Linked DNA regions of Homo sapiens. The protein of the gene in region 1 interacts with the protein of each later gene in a biochemical or structural test. Each region holds a gene or a part of one and is shown in the gene's direction. Other genes may lie near its edges.

Region 1 (5,464 bases):
AGGAGCAGCAACAGGAGCTGCCAAGGGGTCGAGGCTGTTCCGTGGCTTGTGTCGGGTTTGTTGGGTGCTGATGGCATAAGAAGCCGCATCGCAGCATAGACTGGGATGGAGAGGAGGAGGTCGGGGGACAGATTGCTCTCTGGGGTCCTGGGCTGTGAAGAGGCAGCTGCTGGAAGGAGAGAGGGGGCCAGGGTTTCCTGGGTGCCATCAGAAGGCAGACTAAAAGTAGGCAGCCTGATGGGGGTGCCAGGGTGGGGTTGGGGCAGCGGGAGCTGGCAGTGGGTCTGGGCTCAGGGAGACATTCCCTGGGACCGCCCCCCAAAGGACTTTTGACAGCCCTGTTGGTTTGGGGGCCTTGTGACATTTGGACCAACCAGGGCAAATCTCTATCTGCTCTGAGGGCCTCTTCTGCCTGCATAGGCATGGTCACCTTCAGGCTGGGGTGTCAGGAGCTTTGAGAGGGGCACAACCAGAGCCCTGGGGGCCCTCACAGAGCAAGCAGTGTCTCAGTGGGGCCCACAGGAAGGTTTAGAGAGGGCAGGGCACAGGTGTTGCAGGGACAGGCATGGCATAGGCCACAGCCCGATGGGGGCGGGCAGGGCTGGGAGTGTGTGAGGAGACCCGCTGTAAGCAGGACTGTCCTGGAGACGGTGCCAGCCAAAGATTGGGTAGCACTGACCCGCTGCCACACATGGCTCAACTTGGCCAAGGCTGCCTGGTGGCTGCGGGTATTAGAGCTGGGCCGTAGACAGAAACCACAGGGCTGGGAGGTGGCATCTGACTGTGACCGCCTGGCTGGGGCAGGGAGGGACCCACCTCAGGCTGTGGGGCTGGCAGAGACTGGGCACCCTGTGGCCTGTAGCCTTGGCTAGGTCTTGGCAGGGATGGGGAACCTCCCGGGCCCAGGCCTGGGTGCCCCAGTGCCTGGCCAGGGGGATGGGGGGACTCCTCTTCCCGCTGTGAGCTCACAGCCCCCCTCGACCCCAGAAACTGGAGGAGCAGGACCGCCGGGCACTGAGCATCAAGGAGCAGCTGCAGCAGGAGCATCGTTTCCTGAAGCGGCGCCTGGAGCAGCTGTCGGTGCAGAGCGTGGAGCGCGTGCGCACAGATAGCACGGGCTCTGCTGTCTCCACGGACGACTCAGAGCAAGGTGGGGCGTGGGGCGCGGGGCAGCCTCACCTGGGCCTCCGGGTGCGCAGTGGTGCAGCTCCCTGGGTGGAGAGGAGGTGCCTGGTGCTGGGGCTGGGGAGAACCCTCCCAGCTCCCTGCTGCACTGGGGTGTGTGTTTGTCACTAAGCGCAGAAGGGACTGGACAGGGAGGGTGGGATGCAGAGGCTGTGTGGCCCGCTGAGGACTGGTGCTTCTGAGGCCGGGTTCTCAGCCAGAGCCCTCCTGGCGTCTGCTGCCCCAGGGCCCAGACAGCGCCCTCCGCACTTCTGCCCCTCTGCCTAGAGCTTCTGCTTCCAGAAAAGGGAGAAATGGGCTGGCACCCTCAGAGTGGCCTGACCCCATCCCCACTCTATTCTCCCTAGAAGTGGACATAGAGGGCATGGAGTTTGGCCCTGGTGAGCTGGACAGTGTTGGCAGCAGCAGTGACGCGGACGACCACTACAGCCTGCAGAGTGGCACCGGCGGCGACAGTGGCTTCGGGCCCCACTGCCGGCGGCTGGGCCGCCCCGCCCTCTCGTAGGCCCGTGCCCTCTGCTCCTTGGCCTGCCTGCCCGCCAGCCACGCGTGTCAGCCCTCCAGTTCTCCTTCAGTTGACGCCAGCCTCTCCACAGGCCCACTGCTGTGCCATTCTGGAAGCTCCAGCTGCTGCTGGGCTGCCTGGCACTGCCCGCTTGCCGGTCAGGGCCTGCCGAGCTGCCTGCCCCTTCCAGCTGGGCAGAGTCCCCTGCAAGGAGGCAGGGCCCAGCTTCCACATCCGGAGCCCTGGTCAGCATAGCCGCCCACGGTCTGTTCTCAGATTCCTAATCATTCCAGAAGTATTAAACGTCATTGCTGCAAACCTCGGCAGGTGCCGTGTGAGGGGCTTAATGACCACCACAGGGAGCTCAGACCCCAACCCTGGATCCCAGGAGAAAGGAGTGGACCGAGGAAGGAAGGAAGGCAAGGCTGTCTGTCCATCCGTCCGTCTGTCCACCTACCTGTCAGTCCACATAGGCTCCTGGCGTGGACAAGGGGTCTGTGAAGGGCGGGAACTGGGTGAGCACCTGGGGCAGGTGGGTGGTTAAGGTCCTTCCCACTTCGCAGGTGTCAGAACCTAGGGCTGGGCTCTCGGGGCCAGGCAGGCCAGCCCAGCCCACGCCGAGCTGGGCAGCGTCTGCTCTGGTAGGACTGTCAGACGCACACGCGCACGCACCTAGACACACCCACTCATGTACATGCTCACACATGCAGACACACCTGGGCGTCCCGAGGTCACATGTTCTGGGGATGATGGCCTTCAGGGGTCATCTGGCAAACAGCCCCTGGGCTGTGCCTGGATCCCCCTCTAGCTCCTGCTCACCCACGCCCACCCAGTAGTCCTGCCTGTCTGCACAGGAGAGGGGCTTCTCTTCCTGGCTGGGGCTGGGGTGAACTGGAGGCTGGTTAAGTTGCAGCCGCTGGGTCCTCGGGGGCTTACTCATCTCCCTTTTTTAAACAAAAAGCAAAAAAGTAAAATGCTGCACTGCCCAGCAGCCCGGTTAGGGCTCCTGGAGCCACCTTAGGAAAGGGCTTCTCATGAGCTCTGCTGCGGCAGCTTCAGCTGGCAGAGAGGCTTTCCCAGAAAAAAAAAAAAAACCATTTTTAAAAAGAAGAAAGCCTAAAGACTCTCGGCCTAGGGACGTCCGTGTGTGCCGCCTCTGTTTCCTGTACCAGATTTTTGTATTCTATTTTCCTAGCTGTTGTTGCGTCCTTGTTTGCTGAGGGGTGGGAGCCACCCAGCGTCTCAGGGACCTGTCCCTCCGTCACGTCGTCAAAGTGTGCCTTGTGTCTTGTGTCAGGCCTTGCCCTTCCCACCAGCATGTCCCTCGTGGCTCAGGGTGCCCCAGGCCTGCCCAGCTAGTGCTGTCCTCCCATCTCCTGTGGGCAGCCCCTCCCGGCAGCCAGGGCTTCCTGGAGGCGATGCAGCCAGGCCCCTGTGGGTGGCACGGAGGGGCTGTGACCTGGTCCCCAGTGTTGCCCTCCCCAGTGGCTGGCAGGGGCCTGCTTGCTCACTAGAGAGATGGATTCTCACCTGTCACCTGACTCGAGCCCCCTGCTTCCTGGCCTAGGCGAGGGTTCCAGGTTTCAGACACTGGCAGCCAATGAAGACTGTGCTCGCTGGGTGGTGCAGGCCTGGCACCAGGAGGCTTGCACCCGCCTTTCCTTCCTGACGTCCTCTGTCCTTGGGGCTGGCCCATAGCAGTGCCTGCCGTGCCTCTGGTACATCTGTAGCCAATTCCCATATCATGGGGAAAATTCGTGTCTATTTTCAGTCGTACGCATAGACGCCCCAGGATGGGGGGCCCACTGTGGCGGAAGGGGGTCCCTGGAAACAACTCTGGCACAGAACCTGCCCTGCAGGCTGTAGGGGGCATGGTGCCTGGAGCTGAGGGGCATCCGAACGCGTTGCGGGTGGTTGTGAGGAGGCCTGTCTGCATCTCCTTCCGGCCCCACTGGGGTCCAGGGGTGCCCAGAAAGGAGCTTCCCCTGCCTGCCTGAGTCTGTCCCCCCAGGCTTCATTTCAAACACCGTGGCACCTCCGAGCAAGGCGGGCCGTGTGTAAAAGCTTGCTTCCCCAGCCAGCACTGCAGGGCCCTGAGGTGGTCGTGTCCCTGCCCTCAATTCTTGAAGCACCAGCTCCCTGCCCCACCCTCCAGTGCCTGAGGCAGCTAGGGGCTTCTGCTCTCATCTCTGACCAGCAGAATCCACCCGGTGACCAGTGGTGGCCCCTCAGCCCACCCTCCCGGCAGCTCAGCCTGTGGCTCTTGAGGCCGTGGTTCCCACGTGGACTGGGAGGCAGTCTCAGCCACCCGGGGTGCTGTTCAGCTGCCCCTCCCTGCCATCAGCAGGTGGGTGAGGGGTTGCCCACTGGGTGGGGGCCCGTGCTAGGAGTCACCACATGCTCCAACCTCCCACTGCTCCCTGTCAGGGGCCCAGGCTGCCATCACTGGAGGCTGCAGGGACCAAGAGGCCATCACCGTGTCTATAGAGAGCAGACAGAAGCAGAACAGAGCCCGGGGCTCCTGAGCCTCTGCGTGTGCCCTCCCAGCCCACACCAGTGCTCTCGGCCACTGAGCACCCAGACTCAGGCTTGGGTTCCCCAGCCTTATTGGAAGGCAGCTCCCGCATACCAGGATAACCCCCGCAAACCACATAGCAGACCCCCGCCATCCTCGCAGAGTGGGAGAGGCTGCAGCAAGGCTTTGCCTCTGCAGACCCCATCTTAGTGGCACGGTGCTTGGGCCTGTGTCCCCGGGTGGTGGAACCCTGTACCGGTCTGTGGCCCTAGGGTCCCTGCTCTGTCTGCCCCGGCCCGTGCTGTCCGCTGGGTGAGGCAGGCTCCCCCGTGCCCTGCCTCCCTCTGTCAGGGAACCTGGGACCCCCTCCCCACTGCCTGCACAGAGGACCCTGACCCTCGGCCAGCAGGGTGGCCCCAGGTCCATGTTGGGCACTAGGGCAGGTTCCGTGCCAGAGTCGGGGGCCACACGAGGGCCTGGTGCCGGTGAGGGGGGCGTGCGCTAGAGGGGGAAAGGGGCCCCCGGCCACCTGTCCACCGTGTGGGCCGTGCTGTGTCCTTATGTCATTGTAATATAAATACAGATTTTTATATCTCACCCTGCTGGCTCCGGCTCTTTCTGTGGTTGTCACTGTCAGCGTGCTTCGCGCCCTGCCCTCGGCCTCCAAGCAGAAAGCCTGGCCCAATGGCACCACGCCATGTGGCCTTCGGGCCGTGGCCCTCGTTGCCCTACCACAGCCTCTTTCCTGGGAGGCCTGACGGAGCACGGCACCCCGTGCCGCCAACCACACCGGGCCCGCCGTCACAGCTGCCTCCCTGGATGCTGTGGCGCCTGGAGCTGGGTGAAGGTGGGGTTGAGGTGGGCGCCCCCATGGGCCTGTTGGCCAACTGGATGCTCTTGTTGCTCTTGTCCCAGAGGCACTGGGACTTTGCCTCTGGCCCTTGTGCTGGGGCCCTGCTGGCCGAGGACAGCCCGCTCCCTGGGGTGCTCCGTGCCAGCCAGGAGCCCTCTGCACAGAGGCTGCTGGCTCTCAGAGCTGCACTGTGAGAATCGCTCTGTACCTGTTCCCAGAACTACCTGGGCACGGCTTCTGCTTCCTGTCATGGGGACCTGCCGTGCTGAGGTGAAGCGAGATGGTGTAGCCAGCTGTCCCCTTGTGCTGGTGGTGACCACGGAGACACAGGCTCCTGTCGTGCCCATCACGGGGTGGTTGTGAGGCGATGAGACTTCACGCAGTGGGGAGAAGAGGCCTTGTTCTC
Region 2 (7,286 bases), on another chromosome or scaffold:
ACTTTTTTTTTCCCTGCTTGTGCTCTGTCTACTGAAGTCATTTAATTGAATTGACATGCCATAGGGTGGCTTAATTGTACTGGGGTTTTGCTTACATATAAGTACTTTCTGATTTTTTTCATCAATCAGAAAATCTTTAGAAATGTAGAAAAATAAGAATTATTAGATTTCTGTTTTCTTTAACTTGCACCTTAAAATAAGTACCTTAATATTTCATTTGTGTGATTTTATAAATGATCTGTAACTTACTAGCTAGAATGATTACATTTTGTCTATAAGGTCCATCAAATACCATTGTTTTAGCTGTTATCAGTTAGTTGTGTTACCTCTGTGATTGCAGCATTAGATTTGTTAATAGTCACTGTTACAAAGGAAAATGGTTTTGTTTAACTAAAACAAATGAACCCAAGATAACAGTACTGATTAAACATATTTTAAAACCAGACACGTTGTAAGACATAATGTAAGAAAGACCAAAAGTAGTTAGGTACTGAGATTTGCCTTAAAAATATCTGGTGAAAGCATACCACTTTGATTGATGAATGATGTTGACTATTAAAAAATATCTCTTGTACTGATGTTGGGTATATGCATCAAACATATACGTTTTTAGGGATTTTTTTCCCCCTAACCTTTAACAAAAGAAATACATGTTATAGAACATTATGGAAAAGCTAAAAGGAAGAAAATTAAGATAAACTATAATCCTTTTACTCAGAGATAACCATTCTTTGTTTTTTACTGCACACCATGATTCTTCAGAGATAACCATTCTTAATAATAACAGTCTATACTTGTGATTAGTCCTGGTTTCCTAGAAAACAGCACAGACAGGATTAGCTGCTAAGGCTTTGATGGGAGGTGCAGTTTGAGGGCAAGAATGAAGAGAAAAGCTGGTCATAGATTTCTAAAGAAGAGACAGGTGGTTTGCAGTCATGTTAAATAACTCACAGACTTTGTGGACCCACCATACCTTAGAAAGGTCAGATGATAGAGGAATGGATTTGGATTCTGACAAGGATTTGTTTGCAGGCACCTGTCTTTCATTGGTCAAAGTTTTCTACATCTGGCATTGATGCCTCCAAGCTTTTGGATTGTGGTGCTCTGGGAACTAACACCCGGAAGTAGTCAGGGAGTTATAGCCTCCTTTCCATGTTCACAATTCAGGAGTACCTGAATGTACTCCCAAGGTAGCTTGAATCTACCAGAGGTATTAGGAGACTGAGCTTTTCCATTGATTGGCAGCCAAGGCCTGGGTTGAGAAAGGTGAATCTGGGGCCACATATAAACTGTGTTTACCTCAGTACGTTTTTAGTCTTTGTATACATCTTTTTAATATATATTTAAATAAAAATGGGTTCATTTTTAAATAAAAATGGGTTCATTTTTAAATAAAAAATGGGTTCATCATATAACTTACTGGTAATCTGTTATTCTCCTTCAGGATAAATCTTGAAATATCTTTATTAAATATTCAGCATCCTTTAAAATTGCTATATAGTGTTCCACTCTAGCAGTAATTCTTAAAAGGAAATTCTTAAAATTTCAGTTATTTATAGATGGATTGTGGTTTGAAATATTTATTCATTTAATGATAAATTGTCATCTTAAACTTTTATTTAGAAATAGTTTCAAATTTACAGAAAAATTTCCCCAATAAGAACTGTTCAGAGACTACTCATAAACCCTTTACCTAGATTCACCTGTTGTTAACATTTTCCCCACTTGCTGTATCATTTCCACTTTTTACACACCTTTTTCCTTAAAGTTATTTACACCATGGTCCTTTACCTCTGACTTTAATGTGTACTTTCTAAGAGGAGGGATGTTCTCTTTCATAATCACAGTACAATTTACAACTTAAGTAAATTTAATACATAGTAATCTGTCCATTTTCCAGTTATGTTGACTGACCCAGAAGTGTTCTTGATAGCATTTTTCCCCCTCCAGTACAGGATCTAATTTAGGAGCAGGTATTGCATAGTTGTCATGCTTCTTTAGTCTCCTTTAATCTGGATCATTTCCACAGCCTTCCTTTGTCTTTTATAACATTGTTATTTTTGAGAATTAAGACATAAGTGATGTTGTGTCCCTCTCAGGATATCACATCTGGAGGCACATGAGGTCTGTCTGACTCTTATTGATGATATTACTTTTGATCACCCAGTCAAGGTCTAATGTTTCCACTGTGTAGGTATTATTTTTTCCCTTGCAGCTAATAAGTAATATAGGCAGATGCTTTTGGACCATGTAAATCTTGTGCTCCTTTTCAAACTTTGTGCCTGCATTTACCATCTGTTGATGACCCTTGCCTTTATTCTGACGGTCACAAAATGATTTTTCATTTCCAGCACTCCTTTCACATTTACAACTTGGCATTTGGTAATTCTCCTCCTTCCTTACCTACTTATTTATCTTTTTATTATTGGTATGGATGCATGGATTATTCCCCCCACCAATAATTTATAATTTATTTGGCCATTTTGATGCTCAGATTACCCCTAGTTTTAGCTACTGAAAGGCCCCTTCAAGCTGGCTCCTGTGTCTGTCATATGCGTTTTTTTAAAAAGTACATCCTTTCTGGCATGACATGAATGATCTTTTTGAGATTTACTTTGCATTAAAGGTGGTAACTTTGTGGTTAATTTGCTCAGGATATTTCTGGCTCAAGAGTGAGAAGACTGACATAGTTATTTATGAGTCTTAACACTGAAAATTTCACTAAACACACTTAAAAGGATTTGATACCCTTTTACGTATTGAATTGCTTATATTTGAATTTTGTTAGTCAAAAAGTACCTTAAAATTATTTATATTTTTGTGGTTCTGTGAGACTACACATGATAATATAGGGTTGATTTTAAACATGAGAACACTTTAAGGATTTAAAATGATTATTTTAGAACGTTAGCAATATATGAATCTTTAAATTGTTAAACATATATAGTTAAAATAGAATTATATATCCATTGTAATATGATATAAGAGCCAGGTAGTATATTTAGCTATTCCTATTCATTTTAAACTATTGGGTAAGAGCAAACGGATCAACTGTGAAATATCTTTAAAGAAAAAACTATTAGAAGTCTGTACAAAAATTGAATTTATTTGGTGATTATAGTTGTTTTATTGGTTTCTTTTGTTCACTGTTTAATTTCAGATGTTAAGATGTATTAGAAAATTGGATTTTAAAAATATTGAGTATTTTTAAAAAGGTAAACAGTTTTAATTTTATTGGTTTTTATGTAAAATAACTTGTACTTTTTGAAATTTTCCAGTGGGCAGAAATGGATCTGGAAAAAGTAACTTTTTTTATGGTAGGTGTTGCTTTTTGAATTGTAAATATATTAAGACCTGGGTATCTTAGGGTAGATTATTAAAATCATTAATTTTCTGAGGTTATGTATTCATGAAACCCAAGAAATACTTTATATGGGGTTGCAGCTTAGTGTAGAGGGTTTAGAGTATACAGATCTGAATTCTGCTTTATACCCAGTGGCTGATTAGCTGTGTGAGAGTGGGCAAAACACGTAGCCTCTCAAATTTTTCTTTTCACTTTAAAAATGGAGATGTTTGGATGTTTGCCCTGTCTACCTTAGATGGTTTGTAAGAATGGAATGCAATAGTATGTATGAAAATGCTTTTTAAACTTGAATGTAATATATAAATGTTATAAATGCATATTTTAAACGTATGTAAATGCAGTAGAATAGTTGATAGTATTGTTTTGGAAAATTGTTCATCTTTCTTATTTCACCTTTTTGAAAACGTTTTCTAAACCAATCATCTTTGTAAAGGATGAAGAGGTATAAAAAACTTGAAACTGAACAGACTGTTGTCACTTTGAAGATAGTAAATAGAGCTTCAAAAATTCTCTCTAAATTGCATTTAAGTGTAAATAGCAATGCGTCTGTTAACAAATCCTTTGAGGAGAAAAACATTTTAACAAAATTAGACAGTTAAGGAGTAGGTTGAAAAATTTGAACTTTTTAGTTGGGTAATGCTTGAGGGAAAGGGGCATTTAGTGGACTGGCTTAGTAAGAACAAAGGTTCTATCTCTTCTGTGCACACGAATCTGAAAGGCACTCTCTAGCCTGTATATCCTATTGTGGTTGTAATTTGGCAATGATGAGAGAATGGACTGAAGTGGAAGTATTTCAGAATCTCCAGGGCAGTGTGAAGTCTCCTCACCTCGACCTGTGTCCACAGCACACACATTAATGCTTATGCACGTACTTGCTGATGTGGGCACCCCCACCACCTCCACACACACACAGTGCCAGAGGTCTCTTGGGTGGACTGGGACAAGAACAGCTGAGTAAAGAGTTCCACTTCCTAGGCAGGGTGGTCCAGTTAGGTACTCTATACCGAAGTAGGAACGGCCCCTTCTTACAGAGCTCGGTATAGTATAAGAAGTGTAGTATAAGTTGGGCATCTCAAACATTTCCCTGTATTTCCTTAGTTTTATTTCTTTTGGTAAAGTATCCACTTAAGCATATTCTCAAAATACATCCTATTTTGTTAAAAAGGATTTTAACTCATATCATTTATGTCTAGTGGGGAAAAAAGCAAATACAGTGTTAACCTAATCCAGTCAGTGAACACTTTGAGCCAGAGGTATACCTTAGTTTTGCTTGTCTGTTTTCATGTATTTCGGTGGTTTCTCTTTATTTCCTTACCTTAAATGTTTCAATGAAAACTTCTCAGTATTTTTCTTATATCATTTCCTACCTGATTAGTCTGATGTGCAGGCACATTTTCTGCATTTCCTTTTGTCCATATGAAACAGATAATTTATTTGCATTGTCTATTACCAGACACACTATGTTCTATTGAGGTGTGGGAAGTTATAAATAAGTTATAAACACTTTTTTAGGGTATACTAATAGTTGTTTTTGTATTTCCAGCAATTCAGTTTGTTCTCAGTGATGAGTTTAGTCATCTTCGTCCAGAACAGCGGTTGGCTTTATTGCATGTGAGTGAGACTGCTTTAAGACATTATTGATATTACATATATTTTAAAAATAAATTTTCCATGCTGGTTAAAAAAGCATTTGTTCAAGTTTCAGATTCTTTGTGAACAAGACACAATCTTTCTCATAAGTGTGTTACTCTGCTGTGAAATTTAGCCTAACATATTAATGCCAGATAAAAGCCCAATTTTTATACAGTGGTTTAGGAGAAAATTATAGGATTTGCCTATAGATGGATATGTCCTCCATATAAATGTCTTAAAGGAGACATGATATATATCATAAGTGTTTTATTCTGCTGTGAAATTTAGCCTAACATGTTAATGCCAGATAAAGGCCTAATTTTTATGTGATGGTTAGGAGAAAATTATAGGATTTGCCTATAGGTGGGTATGTCCTCCATGTACATTTCTTTAAGGATGTGATCTGCAAAGGCTTAAGAAGCAGGTTTGCTGAGGAGAAAGAAGAGTTTGAGGTTGCAGATTAGGAACTTTAAGATGCAGAACCAAAAATTAATTGGGAACATAGAGAAACAACCATTGCAAACTAAACAACATACAAGTTGTTTGTTGTTTTAGCCATATTTGTACTTAGATAGTAAACATCATTTTCCAGTATGAAAAACAGTAGAGATGTTCTGCAACTTACAGCGGGGTTATGTCCTAATAAACCTATCATAAACTGAAAATACCATAAGTCAAAAATGGACATTAGCCTACAGTTGAGCAAAATGATCTAACACAAAAGTCTGTTTTATAATAAAGTGTTGAATCTGTCATATAATTTATTGAATACTATGCTGAAAGTAAAAAACAGTGATTTTATGGATACTCAAATTATGGTTTCTACTGAATGTAGACTGCTATCACGTTGTCATTCAGCCATTTGTTGAACCATCGTAAGTTGGGGACCACCTGTATATTTACAGTAATGTGAGTTAGGATATTTTATTAAGTGGGTCCTTTTGTAATGCATAAGCACGATGATTGGGTTTTCGTGTTCATGTGAGTCATGCCTCCCTCAAACCTTGTTAGGACATTGGCACATTACCAATGTGATGTGGAAAAAAATATGAGTAATGGACTAAAGTAATTTTAGGATAGAAAATCATGAAAGACTACAATAAAACGATTAATCCTTCTGATTTGAATATTGTTTATTAAAGACTAGAAAATGAAATTCCTCAACATGTCTTAACAGTGTTTCTCACACATAGGAAATTGTTTTGTTTAGCTCTTGTCTGTCTTTTCCCCTTGTTTAGTTTGAATTTGTAGCCCAGTAATCAGAATTGATTTCCTTTAGAAAAATTCTTTTTAGGTTTTTCAGATTGGCATTAAAATAATTAATAACCTCTTTGGTACAGTTCTTCATTGTATTTACTACATAGTTTCTATAATCTGGAAGGTATCTGGACTTGGTACCATAGTTTTTGTGTCATAGATTGGTTTAAATGTGACACATGTTAAATGTGTATATTTCTATAATAGATTTAAAACTGTAGAATGTCTCAATTTTTCTTAAAAAACAGACTTTTGGTAATTATCCCATGATTTATTAGGATTTCTTTGCAGCATTAAAATGAGACTGTAAGAGAAAAGCCTCATGGTGTATTAGATATTAGCAAATAGGTAGAGTTAAATGTCCCCAGTCTTGCAGTCTAATAAAGTGGTCTGTAGAATCATATTTAAGGATATCTAACTTTGACATGTCTTGCATAGCTCTTATTTTTTATTTAGAATCAAAAGCTATTTGGTTGAGAAGTTTTGTTGTCCTAATCTAACGTCTCTGCTGTTTTGGCAAGAGGGATATATACTATAACTCTGGGGATATCCCCAAAGTATGTATCCCTCTTGCCAAAAGAGCAGAGACGTTAGATTAGTGTGTGTGTGTATATATGAATCTAGCAGAAATTTTTCTCCATTGAATCAGACTTGTTATTATGCCCTAGACTTTAAGAATCCTTTAAAGGATATGAATATACAACTTAAATGGCAAATTTCTCACTTCTTTCATTTTTAGGAAGGTACTGGTCCTCGTGTTATTTCTGCTTTTGTGGAGATTATTTTTGATAATTCAGACAACCGGTTACCAGTAAGTAACTTTTTTTTTAAAGTAATGTTGAGAATTTAATTGGTTTAGCTGATTTTCTTCATACTTTGAAACTTTTTAAGCTTTTATAATTTGTTATAATTACAGTTTATATACTGATTTTATCTTAAAATGACAATGAATACTCTGTTAACAAATGGGAATGTACAAACTGTTGTGAAAAGTGTCTTGGTTAAGAGTATTGAGTATTTGTAGTATTATTTT

What was found.
Region 2: the proteins of MXD4 (region 1) and SMC3 form a complex in vitro, tested with the Homo sapiens proteins (one study listed by BioGRID).

What each region holds. Positions count from the first base shown.
Region 1 is NC_000004.12:2,246,770-2,252,233, reverse strand, and holds the end of MXD4 (max dimerization protein 4), read left to right. Parts: intron 1-987; coding exon 988-1,150; intron 1,151-1,532; coding exon 1,533-1,690; 3' UTR 1,691-4,802; downstream 4,803-5,464. UniProt on the Homo sapiens protein: Transcriptional repressor. Binds with MAX to form a sequence-specific DNA-binding protein complex which recognizes the core sequence 5'-CAC[GA]TG-3'.
Region 2 is NC_000010.11:110,570,429-110,577,714, forward strand, and holds part of SMC3 (structural maintenance of chromosomes protein 3), read left to right. Parts: intron 1-3,278; coding exon 3,279-3,317; intron 3,318-4,907; coding exon 4,908-4,975; intron 4,976-5,931; exon of another isoform or gene 5,932-6,033; intron 6,034-6,992; coding exon 6,993-7,064; intron 7,065-7,286. UniProt on the Homo sapiens protein: Central component of cohesin, a complex required for chromosome cohesion during the cell cycle. The cohesin complex may form a large proteinaceous ring within which sister chromatids can be trapped.